2 linked regions of the Homo sapiens genome follow. The protein of the gene in region 1 interacts with the protein of each later gene in a biochemical or structural test. Each region holds a gene or a part of one and is shown on either strand. Other genes may lie near its edges.

Region 1 (7,491 bases):
TACACGTGCAGGCAGGAAACCAAATGGAGACCACCACCCTCCAGTGTAAACTCTAACATCACACCAATTTTTCTTTTTTGACTCTCTGAATGCATGAATAGAAAAATAATAAAGCAACAGAATCCACTTCAAATTGAAAGACCTGGCACCTCTACCACACATTAGGAGGTATGGAAGCATGGGCAAGTTATTTAACAATAATTATGATCATTTCTGTTGTGGGTGCTGTTAAGCACTTTGCATACTTTAATCCTTAAGCTTAGATTTCTTCATGTATAAATTGAGGATAATAATGCAACTACTTCATTTGCAAGTTGAGGCAGCAGGGTCAAAAAGAACACAGTTTCAACACAGACAGACGTGGGTTAAATGCCAGCTCCAATTTCTACTATTTGATCTCACTGAGCTCCCATTTTCTCATCTCTAAAGTAGAGATGAAGCCACTTACCTCAAAGGACTGTGGTGGGGAATTGAGCAAGACAGTGTTAAATACCAGTTGGTGTCTGTATCGCTAGACAGTGCACAATAAATGTTTATACCTTCTCTCCTATTATACACATGAACTGCTTCTGTTAATATTCATCAGCAGCAATTCAATGTCCATAGCAGCAATTCAATGTCCATAGAGTCCAAAGATGCATTTCCTTTCATAACAATGAAAATTTTTCCCAGAACAAGCTTAATATGCCAGATACTGGCCCAACAGCTCTATGTCTATGAACTCATTTAATTCTCACTACTGTTCAGTGGGGTAGGTACTACTACTGTCATCCCCATTGTACAGATGAAGACACTGAGGCACAGACTTTGGGTTACTTGCCTAGATTCAAACAGATGGTACCAGAGCTGGCAGCCTGGCTCCATAGCCTGTCCTCCTAACCAGGCTGCAATAGGGCTTAATGGGTCAATCTGTTTGAGATTCCATGCTTGGATGTAATCTCTTCTAGAGATAAGCACTGGATGCTCTCACAAACCGCAATGTGTTGATGTGACTAACTTTTCAACTTCTGAAATAACATTTTGTGTATTTTCTTAGTATTCCTAAAAAAAAACCCTTTACACTTTAAATAAGGTGCCTATAACTAGTTCATCTTGTTCTGCATGCTGAAATACCATAAATAAATGCACTTCTCTCTTCAAAGATTATGTAAATAAATCTTACATTAAAACATACCCCTGAGCTTTGGTTTAAACAATAATTTCAAGTCCAAATTAAACATTTATGTATGTGTATATATATTTAGCAGGAAAGTCTTAATATGACCTATTTTGTTAAACTAATGACATCTATACCCAATACTCCAAATATTCCTCTTATTTATAATATTCGCTGTGTAACAGTCACACAGCAGTACTGCATGGTACTTCAAAGTACTATTCCTTTTACAAGTTTAACCAACTCAGGTATTAAACATCAATGATGATAATCCATAGCTCTGCTTAAAAGGAATCTCTCGGGAACAGCTGAGAAAGAAAGGTTAAAGATTTCTATCCTTCAAAGTAGGGCACTGCAGCTACCTATAAATCATGCTCTTTGTTTATTAAGATAATTAGGCCCATCAGTACACTTAACTTTTAGACTCAACAATTGTCTGGCATGAACAATTTCCACTTTTTCTAAAACAAAGGGGATGTGTTCAAAAAGCGGTCCTCTGCATGCTCTCTGCACAATGCATGCTATTTTAAAACATGATTTATGGGTCTAATTCCTGGAGCTGCCTTGAAAAATATAGTGGGTTGTTCCTCCCATGCTCCCTATTAGGAGAAGACACTCCAATTTGAAGAGTGCACTCTGTTTCAGACTTCAGGCCGCTATATCATGTCAGCATTTTCAGTAAATACTGTTCAATTGGACTTTAAACAAATGGAATGGAGGGCCACAGCTGCAGCCACTGCAGAGATAAAGTTATCCAGCCGGGAGGCTTACATAAGAGGTGCAGGACAATCAGGGTGAAATCCAAGTGTCATTATCTGAATCCTATTTCTTGAGACTTGCCTACATTCTTAAAGTGTATGAATTCACACGCCCAGAGCTCGTTTTATTTGCCTTAGGGCATAAAACACCGGGTCGACATATAAGTTGTTTTTTCCCTAAAGGACTAGGCTCCAATTATGAAAAGGTTGGCAACTTCTGCCTAGGGGAAGAGTAAAGCGGGATGCGCGGGAAGCCTGCAGGCCTGAAAGAAATGGCTCGCCCAAAGATCCATCGCAGTGCTGGCCACACTCCCCAGAGGAATTAGGATGGAGGTGACAAGACCCTGCCCAGCCCCTTCACCCCAACGTAAACACAGAGTCAAGGAGCTTGGAATGAATAATTAGCACGCAGCAGTCGAAATGCCCTAGGAGTACCTGTCCTCTCCCAGCATATTTCCAACTGGCACATTCGTGAGATGCTGAGGTCAGCCAGCCCTGGACTCCAGACCTTCCAGCTGCCTTGTCCCCTTCTTGGCACCCCGCACTCCCTCCTCGAGCTGGAACTCTGTTAACAAGAGGTGCCACCCTCGGCTTCCCACAAGAAGATAAAAACGAACCTCTCCTTCCCACGGCTCCCTCCAACTTCAGAAACTACAGTCAACTTACTGGGACTCAGGAGGCAGGGAGTCTTCCTGGCGGACGGCGCTCGGAGGCAGCCTCTGCAAACTCCGGCGCGCAGCGCCGCCGCCCCGGCACAGCCCGGCAGCAGCGGCAAGTGCAGGACCAGGCGCCGCCGCTCTGCACCAGTCGCCTTGGCTCAGCTGTGCCGGGCGCCGGGCATTCGCCAGGGCACACGACTCAGCGAGGCGGCGGCTGGGACTGAGGCTACTGCACCCGGCCGCGCGGACCCGAGCGCTGCAGCTGCCTCCAGCCCCGGAGCGCGGCGCTCCGAGCCCCTGGTGGGTGTCTCTGGCTCCAAGGGAATCACGGCTCAATTAGGGACCTGCCAGGAGAAAAACCGATGCGCTGCCGCAGGCAGAGCCGCCAGCCCGCCCCCAGTCGGCTGGTCACATCGCGGGCGCGCAGACGGACAAGCGAGCGGGAGGGTACCGCAGCCAGCACTCGCCGCCGCGCCGCGGAGAATGACAGGCGCCGAGGCGGAGCAGCCGCGCGGGGAGCGGGGCGCGAGTGCGCATGATCCTGGCCGCAGCGGCACGTCACGGGGGAGGAGGGGCGGGCCGCGGGGCGGGAGGGGGCGAGCCGGGCGGGGCCGGGCTGGGGGTGCACACGGGTGAGGACCGGCGCGGGGCCTGGCTTGCTCGCGGGAGGATGCAGGAAGTCTTCCCTGCCCTGATTTTATGAACCCAAAGCTCTGTGGTTGAACTTGTCCCAGGAGCCCATTGTCCTTTAAACAGCACCGTTTAAGCGGTCCTTAAGGTCCCTGGGGAGCCCACAAAAGCCAATTTAATTCAGGTTACAGCTTAACCGTAAAGGGTTGCCATTTGGGGGACAGTGATCTTCTATTGTGGCTGTGCATTAAAATAACTTGGGGAGCTTGTAAGAACCCTTTGCCCCGGACGCATCCCAGAACAAGTACAGGACAATGTCTGGGTGGGGCCCACCCAGGTATCAGTAGGTATCTAAAGATACCAAGGTACAGCAGTGCTTCTCAAACCCTCAGTGTGTGACAGAATCTCCTGCGGATTGTGATGAGATGCAAGATTCAGATTCAGTAGGCCTGGGATAATGAGGGAGACATCCTTTCTAACAAGCTCTCGGAGGATGCCAATACTGGAGGTCCAGACCCCCATCCTTGCTACTTAACGTGTGATCTAGAGCCTGGAGCAGAGCTTCTGAAACAGTTGGCCTGTCTGACAGTCACCCGAGGGGCTTATAAAAAACGCAGAACAAATGCCCAGGCCGTACCCCCAGTGATAGTGGTTCTGGCTCAGCCCCTGGCAAAGGTGGGCTTCTAGAATTCCATTTGGCATCAACACTCTAAATAAATCTGATAGGGGTTTTGTTTGGGCCAAACTTCAAGTTTACACTAGCAACCTGGAATTGGGAATAAACTTTTGCACTTACAAGGAGACAAACCAAGTCTAGAACTCAGGACATCTGACTTTGAGTCAGGGATTCTAAACCAACGGGTGCTTTATCTGACTAGTCCCAATTTTCTAAAATTATGATGCATTACTTAGCAAGAAAAAACATATAAATGGCATTAAATATACACACACACACTCTATTGAACACTCGTTACACATATCATTAATGGGAGCTTAAAGGTGGCTGGGGAAGAAGGCTCATCAGGAGAGGGTAAGGAAGACAGTGATGGAGTAAGGGATGTTGTTAGTGTGTCGCAGAGGGAAGGGTATGTGGGAGGAAACAGTTTAGACTCAGCCTACAGCTTGGAAAAGCCCATTGGGGAAGCGGACCCAGGAACCAGACTTGGCCTCTTGCTTCAGAGCATGGTATGAAACTCAGGTGTTTAAGAACTTATGGAGTATAACATTTCACATACGTTACCTCACTGAAATTTCACAGTGGTCTCTTAAGTTGAATAATAATATAAAAAAGTATCCCCATTTTATATATTAAAGAAGACATCCTGGACATGAGTTGACTAATGGTGGAACTTGAATAAAAGTAGGGATCTCCGTGTTGGACTTGGCTTCTACAACTCTGGAGAAGAGGACAATTTAGACCTTATAAAGCAAATGGTTTCTGTGTTTACTAGTCACATCTTTTACAGGCTGTGCCTAAATTTGGAGTTAGGAAGGCTTTCATTCTTGTGGGGAGGAAATACATTTTGTGTCTTCCAGTTTTGCTACACTTGTTAGGATACACTTAGAACAAAATGTTCTAAGAGCAACCCGGTCCTAGGACATTGCAGTTCCACAGTGCAGGCTTCATTGAGGAGTTTGAAGGGCAATATTCACGTTATCTGGTGACAAGTGTAATTACCATCCTCATTTTACCCAGGCTCAGAAGCTAAGTGATTTAGACAAATTCACGAATGCAGGCAGGAGCCAATCTCTAGCCTCTGTCCTTTTCCTCTGCTCTCTTTTCACCAAGTAACATGCTGAGGATTGTTTTTCATTTCCAAATTTTTCATATCAGGATTTGCCATCAGTAAATTGGAACTCAAATGTATTTCAAAGCCACTCCTAGATAGAGAACCAAAAGTGTCAGGATCAATTCTTGTGCTTGTGGTAGATGCTATGGGCTATACTCTCGGTCTGAGTAATGTTTTGGAAGCAAGTATGTGATAGTTATATACAGTCTTCTAATCCAGAGGTTTGACTGGGAATGCTACACTGCCAACTGTGGTCTACCTGCCTTTATCTTTACTTCTTATCTAACTCTTCCATTACAGCCATTCTTCGGTGTGATTATGAAATTAATTCCTAAGAAAAAAGAATTCTTTGAAGGAGCTGGTACATCACAGGTTGTAAAACTTACTTCAGTTTTTAATAAGAAATATATATATATTTTAAATATGAAGGTAGCAGAATAGTCATGTTGGGACCTTTAGAAGAACCCAAAGTTGTCATTGTTTTCTTAGGTGCCCGACATTTCAATCAAAATATTTACATAATTCATTTGTATATTGATTTCAAGAGATCCAAGATTTAATTAAATAAAAAGTTACTATTAATTGGTGTGTCCTACTGCTATTGAATTTTGAACCATTGTTATTGGCATTAAATACATGAAATATATAATATTGTCTTGATACTATATTGACTGTGCTTTAATATTGACTGTGTCTTGATATTGACTGTGTCTGTATTTAGAATTTATTTCACATCAGCTGCTATTGATTGTCTGGCAGAAATCGCAGCTACATCTTTTTCTCTGAGGTCTGTATTCCTTATGGGTCAGCAAGGCCTACTCTTTGGCTGAGAATTCCTTCCTTCAATGCCTCTAAAAGTCCTAGTAGTGAGATATTCAATTATATAGACACTAATGACTCCACTGAAACTATTCTTCCCTCATGCAGAAACTGTACCTAGGATAGATTTTTATTAAAGTCTTTCTGCTAAAAATCACAGGCTTACCAACTGAGCTGGAAAGCTTAGGCTCAAAAATTCTCCACCTTTATTAATTACATTTCTTCATCCATTTCACTCAAAGGGATTCTTTGACATGAAAATCTTCACTTACTTCATAGACACAGTCCAGATAAGAGAACTGTGGGGAGTCCAAGGTGACTAGCAAGAGTGAGACAGTTGGGAGGAAGGAATTAGATGCCACTTGGTGAAAAATAAGCTTGCCATAAAAATTAATACAAGTTGTGCTTGATTTGTGGACATGGCTTATTACAAAGTTTGCCTTGTTTGAACACATGCAGCAGCTGATAACTTCACTGGAAACCATCACTGAATCCCTGGTGTAGATGGGATTGGGGGAGATTAGGGTCCTGTCTTCTTTCCCGAGAAACTTTAGAAAAGTATTAGAAAGCCCAATTCTTGCCCTAATGCAGGAAACTTACGACGTGCCTGCATTGTAAATGTTCATGTCTAAGTTATCTCACTTACAATTTAGAGCAGTCAATATAATAAATAATCAGGATTTTCAGGCTAGCTCCATAATGTTTTTTAAGTCTCTATTAACAACAAAAAAAGCTAATAGAGTGTTAATTATAACCCTGAACCTGAGAAGAAATAGGTGATGGGTAGGGATGTTGGGCTAAGGCAGGAATGGGGTCGGGGGCTGGGACAGGATGGAATTTAGGGATGGAAGAAGGAAGGCAGGAAGTGGCCTTTGGTTGCTGAGGAGCAAAGGCTGGTGGAGACTGAGTATCAGCAGCTTCTGAGATAAGACTGGGCAATGGCCTGTGAGCAAGATTAGAGAGCAAGCAATCAAGACTCTGCTGGCAACTCACAGCTTACCTGAACTTAAAGTGCTGAGGATTCCACGTGTGACTTTGTCTATAGGAAAGAGGGATCAGAGGTTAAGAAATAGATTATAAATTCCTTAAAACCCATGATAGATGCTTTAAAGAACTACTACAAAATATACCCTCAATTTCAATCTCTAAGAGTTACTTTTTCCTCCCTCCCAACCAAATTGCCCACTAATAAAAGGAGAGAGCAGCTGGGGGAGAGGCCATGCTGCACAGTGCGAACCTCACAGGCTGTCTGGCCCCCACTCCCAGCATCTCCATCCATCAGCTGTAATCACGTGACTGCCATCTTTGATTACCTAATACACAGTAACAAGAGCTTCAAGCACATATTAGGTTCCGAATATGCTAGCTATTAGTGGTGGGCTTTACAAAATCTCTCCTAGAGTTAAAATCTGAAACTAGACATCTCTTAGTGTCTATTTTATCATTTTAATGTAAACCATGATGAACTGTAGTTTTTAAGAGAGTACTTTCCTTCTCCATCAGAAGACTTAAGAGTGACTTTAGGGCTCCTCTGAGGACAGGAGAATCGTGTAGAAAAGGCTTTCAAGGGAGATCAGGGCAAAACCTACTAATGTAGCTCTGCAGCCTCACACTATACTGTAGAGGAAAAGTCAAGGCTTAAGGACTTGACATTTTCATATCTTTCTACCGGGAGAAAG
Region 2 (7,000 bases), on another chromosome or scaffold:
CATGTAGCTGGGACTACAGGTGCACACCACCAGTCCAGGCTAGTTTTTTTTTTTGGTATTTGTCATAGAGGTGGGGTTTTGCCATATTGCCCAGGCTGGCTTCAAACTCCTGAGCTCAAGCAATCCACCCACCTTGGCTTCCCAAAGTGCTGGAATTACAGGCATGAGTCATTGCACCCAACCCAGCATGAGTTTTTTAAACAAATACAATGATATGTTACATCTTGCTTTTTCACTAGTAGAACTTGGACATTGTTATATTTGGTGTATGAAATAAATTCCACATTTTTTAGAAGACTGCATAGGATTCCAACATATGAATCAACTGTACTTCCCTTAGTGATTTTTTTTTGCTATTATAAAATAAAATGTTGCAATGAATATTTCTCCACTTTTGTCAATTTATATGTGTGATAGGTTCCTAAAAGTGAAGTTGTTGAGTGAAAGCACTTGTGTTTTAAATTTTAAAAGATATTACCAAACGGCCCTGTCAGCACCCATCTGTGTCTTTTTTCTTATTGATTTGAAAAAACTCGCTGCATATTAAAGCTATTGATGCTTTACCACAAGTATTGAAATTAAATATATCTTACCATTTTTTTCACTTATTTGTATATTTTTTCATTTTATGGGGATTTGCTTAAAATTTTAGGAAATCATGCTTATCAATCTTGTGATGAGTGTGAATATAAATTCATATGTTTTATCACATTTAGACAGGCCTCTTCACAATTATTTTAAAACTCACCTAAGTTTTCTTTTAATAGCTTCATTATTTCAATGCTATATTTTTATTCTTTGTTCAGCTTGGAATTTATTTTGATATAAAGAGCAAAGTTTTGTTTTTTTTTCCAAACGATTTGCCGTTTTCCCAAGACCATTCATCCATGGCCCTGCACCTCCCCCGCCTGGTGTGCAAAGCCTCCCTTGGACCCATGCCTGCATATTATCTGGGTCTGGGCTCTACTCCCCACAGCAGCTTCACTTTACAATTTTGTGGAGTTTGTCTCCCTTAACACCTTTATCTTACATTTCTTCCCTGAGTCTTCTCATAAGTCTCTCTCTCTTTAAGTTTTTGCACATCTAAAGTGAAAGAAACACTTTACCGTAAGTATTTTAATGTGCTTAATTGTGTTTGGTCTTCACACTGACAGAGTTCTGGAATCATCTGTACAGCAGGCTCATTTCAGGGGCCTTAGACATCTGTCCATCTCCATATCTGGAGAGCTCCCTGGTGCTCTTGATGGCATCACAGAAAGGCCATCGTGGGGAGGTGCCAGTCTTCACTCACACATTTGTTACAGGTTGAATTGTGTCCCCCCAAGTTCAAATGTTGATGTCCTAACTCCCTAACCCCTCTGAGTGTGACCTTATTTAAAGACAGGGTCTTTACAGCAGTGATTACGCCCCATTGAAGTCCTTAGGGTGAGCCCTACTCCAACATGACTGGTGTCCTTACATGAAAAGGAGATCTGGACCCAGAGACAGGCACACAGGGAGCATGCCATGTGGAGCTGGAGATGGTCACCCACAAGCCAAGGAGATGCTGGGGGCACATTGTCCCACCCAACCCTTGGAAGGAGCCACCCTGGGACATCCTGACCTCAGTCTCTTTGGCTCAGAGTTGGGAGGCGACACATTGGGCTGTTCAAGCCGTTCAGTATGTGGTGCTTTGTTATGAAAGCCTGATCGGACTGATACTCCATTCCTCCATAACAGACACTGACACAGCTTCCAGAGTCTTCTGAGAAGAAACAAGCTCCGGGGAATACCTTACACACTGCTGGCTTCTTTGGGGAAATCATCCCTCACAAACGCTTGCCTTTCTAGCCTGAGCCCTTCTCCCCAGCTGCCAAGCTGCCTTTCCTTGACCAAATCATTGAAGTCCCACCTGCCTCACAAACATTTCCATAACAGGAGGGAAACGGGTCTGAGATCTGTCCACACCTGTCCACTCCCAACCCTCACGACAGCAACACAAGCAGAGAGCAGCAGTTCTGCCCCGTAGGGGGACAGCCACAGACATGGAGGTCTGATGTGGGAAGGACAGAGACACTCACAGCTAGGGGCTCGGCACTCACTTTCCACGAGGCTCTAGTTCACTCTGGATAGTAAATTTATCTCTATGGAAGGAAGGCATGCATAAAAGCTTCAGCTCTTCTCACTTGAGTCTCTCATTGGTTTGGGATTGTGTCTAATTCCTATTGTATATGCTTAACTTCTCAATGCAAAAGCCACAAAGATCAAAACAAGTTTTGTGTAACCATTGGTGATGAGTAAAATTGGCATGTCTGACACTGAGCCTGTGTCCTCCCTCTGCCTCTCCAGGCTTTCCTGAGCTGCTGACAGGACTCCAAACCTGCCCACCAATTAGGCAGGACAGCAGATCCTCTTTTACGCCTTATTAGAGTAGTGGATAGGGATTCTGGTTCTGGATTAGAAACACCTAGTTTTGAGAGTTCTAATCCCAGCAGCATCACTCAGTGGTTGGACAAATCCCTTCACCTTTCTGAGCCCGTTTCTAATCGGGTTGAATTAGATACTCTGCATATTTAAACAGGCTTCTAAGAATCTATGAATTTGGACCCTCGGTATCCTAATAAGCAGGACAGACTTCATGACAGAGCTACAAGATCACCAGCAGTGATTTGGGGAACCTAACGCCAAGGCCTGCGATGCAGCCTGCTCTAGCCAGGCTCTTCCTGAGCCCTCACTGTGAGTTCCTTCACGTAGCCATGACCATCAGCTGATTGGTGTTGTTAACCAAAAGGAAGTGGTGGCCTTCCACCTCAAGCATATGCACAGCTATAAATGCAGAGAAGGGGAAGAAACATGAAAAACAGTATTACAGAAAATGAAGTCATAGCACGCTGAGGATCTGAGGAGATGTTCCATGAGTAGCTTGGCAATGAATGCTCTCCTTGAAAGGCATGAAGCAGGTCAGGCTCACACTGAAGGGGGCAATCACAGTCCCCCTGTGCAGGCAGGCAGCAGTGTGGGGGGTGCAAGGTGGGAGAAGACCAAGGGTGGAGTGCCTTAGAAGCGACAGAGACCTGAGGGAGGAACAGGGAGGAGCGGGAGGACAAGGGAAGAGTAGATGCTCCCCAGCTCCAAGAAAGCAGCAGAAGACGCCTCGCAGGAAAAGACAGGTGTGTGGCTTCGTTTGAATAGGGAAGGCATGGCCATACCCACAAAGAACAGGGAGTTCCTGCCACCCACACACCACACAGACCAGTTATGGGCCCATCCTGCCCTGTGCACATCCAGGTCTTGCCCTCCTCCTATCTCATGTGGGACAGGCTGCAAGAATGCAGCCTTAAAAGACTAATGCCTAGGGTACCTAAAAAAAAAAAAAAACCAACACACACGTGGAAATACCCAGCACATCAGGAAAGCTGACAGCAGGAGAGAGAGGCACCAAGCATGCAAGCAGATGAACTGATACCCCGGGAGACGGGGGTAATGGTGCACTCAAACAAGTAATAAAATACACAGAAAACTAATACATCACTTAAAAAAATCCCAAAGAAGTAACTACATTCCTTGGAAATTAACCACCTGCTTGCTAAAATAATCATAGGAAAACTAAGTGGATGGACTGAAGAACAGGATGGACAGGGATGAAGGGCTTCCTTGAGATAAAGATTAACCTGATGGTTTCATGAAAACACAGTGCAAATGGCAAAGGAGAGGGAAAGAATGAAAAGAAAAAGTGCATTCATTGCAGCACTGTTTATAATATCAAAAATTAAAAAAAATCGACATGCCTATTCTGGACTGTCATAAAAATTACAATAATCACTGAATATGGAGACCTCCCCGCACCCCAACATATTAATAAAAAGAAAGTTCCAGAGTGATAAAGGTATTAAGAAGACATACACAGCCCACCATTATATCTTCTGAAGACGTGCACACATGCACACATGAATGCACAGGACGAAAGAAGAGAGGTTAGAGCTCCAACTGCTCCCCAACAGTGGGACTGGGGGCAGGGCTGGGACTGAGGGTGGAGGTTAAGAAGGGCTTTTCTGTTGCTCGCTGTATCTGAATCCTGTACTAAAGGATATGTACTCGTGTATCAGTTATGCAATGGACAACTTTCCTAAAAGAAAATATTAGAAAGTTCTCCCATCTTGGAGGTCAGAGAAACTAACTTTGGCAATTGTAGTTGCTCATCAAACCTATCTGGACGTGCCTTCCCTCCAAGACTGCAGGGCAGATTCCCAGAGTCAGCCCGCCTGGGAGAGGCTCTGACAGTTATGTCAGTTTTAACCACATACCAGGTACCGAGCACTGCAGGCACGGTCTCCATTAGGTATCAGAGTGAAGCCCCCTGTGACTGCTCCATTTACAAAAGAAGAGCTTACAAATAAAGAAGGGGGACTTGAACCCAGTGGGGCCTCAGACCCTTACTCTCAACCCGTAGCTACAAAAATATTCGATAAATGTCACTTTGAGGCAGTGTATCCACCACATAATTCATATATTGTTAGCATTTAAGATGAAAACAACCACAACATTCTGCCTCTACCAAGCAAAGCCTAAGGAGCTTGGTAAGGAGCAGCAAGAGGTCATGCATGGTTTCCCAAAGAGGCTGTGGCAGAGCCAGCCCTGAAAGCCACTCTAAGAACAAACGCACTGCAGGGTCATGGAAGTGTAGGACCACTGGCTGAGACTGACTCTCTCAGAGAATCTCTGTGCATGTTACCTGCACAAAGGCTCTGAAGATGCCCATGATATTTATCCCTGCTTGCTGCACTTTATTTCATTCAGCATTTCTCATGCTTACTTACTTGAGCAAGCTTCCCAGGGAATTCCACTTAGCACTGCAGTTCCACTTCAGGAATCAATCAAGGAAATCGAGGAGAAGGCCAGCAATCTGCTTAAAGTCTCATGAGATCTCCATTTCCACAAAAATAAACATTCTCATCACTCAGATAATAAAATGTTGGTGTCGTATATAATACAAAAGTGACATTGACACTGATGTAAAACATAGATGCTAACTGTTAAAGTGGAGTTAAAAACCATCTCTCACTAAGCATGATTCAGAATGCACCCTGATGGAAGAAATCATAAAAGTTCTATACTACAATAAATAAATAACCATAGAATTAAAAAGCTCTGGAGAAATATTTTCAATAATTATGACAGTGGATTTACAACAGGTAAAATGTAGGTGAGTGTTAACAAGAGGCATATTAATGCCACAGATGTTACAACAAAGAGTATGATAAGCAATTTACATAAAACATATTTAGTCAACAAATATTCCCCATAGGGCTGGGCACAGTGGATCATGCCTATAATCCCAGCACTTTGGGAGGCTGAGGCAAGAGGATTGCTTGGGCCCAGGAGTTTGAGACTAGCCTGGGCAATATAGTGAGAGCCCATCTCTACAAAAAAGAAAAAGAAAAAAAAAAAAGAAAAGTCCCACACCAAATATCCTCCAAACATTCTTCAGGTATTACTGTATGTATAGCAAGACTGAAGAGCAACTGTTAGACAAGAAGAAGATGGAGGGTTCTAGAAAAAAAGAAAGAAAAATGGAACCGTGAGATTACTTGGTATATCTGACACTGTAGAAAATTGTGTCAATAGGGCTTTCATCTTTATGTCAGAAAGTTGGGAAGGAAATGATAATAGGCACAGTGCAAACTAAGAAAACACAAAAACAAAGCAAGGGTTTACCCCAGGAAGAGCAAAAAGGGGTACGAGATAGAAAATGGAATGATATACCTTGCTTTAGCAGTAAACTATATTTATATAACCATAATAAAATAAACCAAATAACTTCTTAATCTCAAATGAGAGAATAATTATCCTGGGATGGTGTGAGAAGGAGTAGAAGGTGATGGTGGTCTAAAACTCCAAAGTCCTGAATTCTCAGTGTCAACAAACACTGTTTAAAATTAGTACACCAAAAAACTTTGAAAATATGCCAATCATAAGGAAATAGTGAGAATTCTAGAGGACATAACTCAAAGCAGTACCAAAGGATGGGCAGAATGAAAAGAGGAACTCATTACAAATTAAAATTAAACAAAAAGAGAAATTAACTTAGGTCACACCAAAACATTTTCATGTCAACTCAACAGGAACTGATAGATGTAATATTAATAAACTACCAGGTTGACCATGGGAAAATAAAGATTTATCAGTTAAGACAAACCAATGGAGGGGAGAAATGAAAGGTCATATGTTGAACATTCAAATGCTACTTATAGTCAGGCAGAGTATACTTAAGTAAAGCAATATTTAAACTGTGGATATTCCTAAATCTCTGCCCTGGGCCCTCCTTCTGTTGAATTTACTTTCTCTCCCTAGTTCACAGTATCCAGGTCGAGAGCCTCCCTCACCCTGCTCGGTAGACCTGCAGCTTGCCTGCAAGGTTTTCACTCAGGTCAAGACATCTCTCATCTGCATCCCAGGCTAAAAGCCCACTGTCTCCTCACACTTATGCTCCCTTCCAGCGCTCCAGGACAGCAGTAACTGGAAGCGCCTCTCCAGCTCAGAGCCAGGATCCCAGTTTCAGAGCTAGACACCTCTGAGCAGAGGACCAGAAAGCTCACAGTACTCCTCAGTAATCCAGTAATCATCAACATTCTTAACTGTCCTCGCTTGCTCCACCACCATCTGCCTTTGGCCAGCTGCCAGAAATCAATACGTGGTGTCCCAGAAAGAAAAGAATCAAGGGAGCCATTTGGATTTATTAAATGTACTGTAACATAAACAAAATATTCTTTCTTTGCATATCTTTGGTCTTGGCTAAATTCAACTGTCTTTAAGATTCCAGTTTAACCACCTTTTAAGAGATGTAGGGCAAACCTTGCACAATTGATTCATAAAGGAAAAAAAAACCTCAAATTGATACAAGCTAATATTGGTCAGATAAAATTATAAGCAAATAGAAAATGTCCCTGATAACATCATATCAAAATGAATGAACTTTCCTAAAATCCAATCAGACTAGTTCTTAAAACATCTTCCCACAATC

What was found. The genes of interacting proteins can lie anywhere in the genome.
Region 2: the proteins of PAG1 (region 1) and SYK form a complex in vitro, tested with the Homo sapiens proteins (one study listed by BioGRID).

What each region holds. Positions count from the first base shown.
Region 1 is NC_000008.11:81,109,011-81,116,501, forward strand, and holds the start of PAG1 (phosphoprotein associated with glycosphingolipid-enriched microdomains 1), read right to left. Parts: upstream 3,059-7,491; 5' UTR 2,581-3,058; exon of another isoform or gene 1-2,580. UniProt on the Homo sapiens protein: Negatively regulates TCR (T-cell antigen receptor)-mediated signaling in T-cells and FCER1 (high affinity immunoglobulin epsilon receptor)-mediated signaling in mast cells.
Region 2 is NC_000009.12:90,804,819-90,811,818, reverse strand, and holds part of SYK (tyrosine-protein kinase SYK), read right to left. Parts: intron 1-7,000. UniProt on the Homo sapiens protein: Non-receptor tyrosine kinase which mediates signal transduction downstream of a variety of transmembrane receptors including classical immunoreceptors like the B-cell receptor (BCR).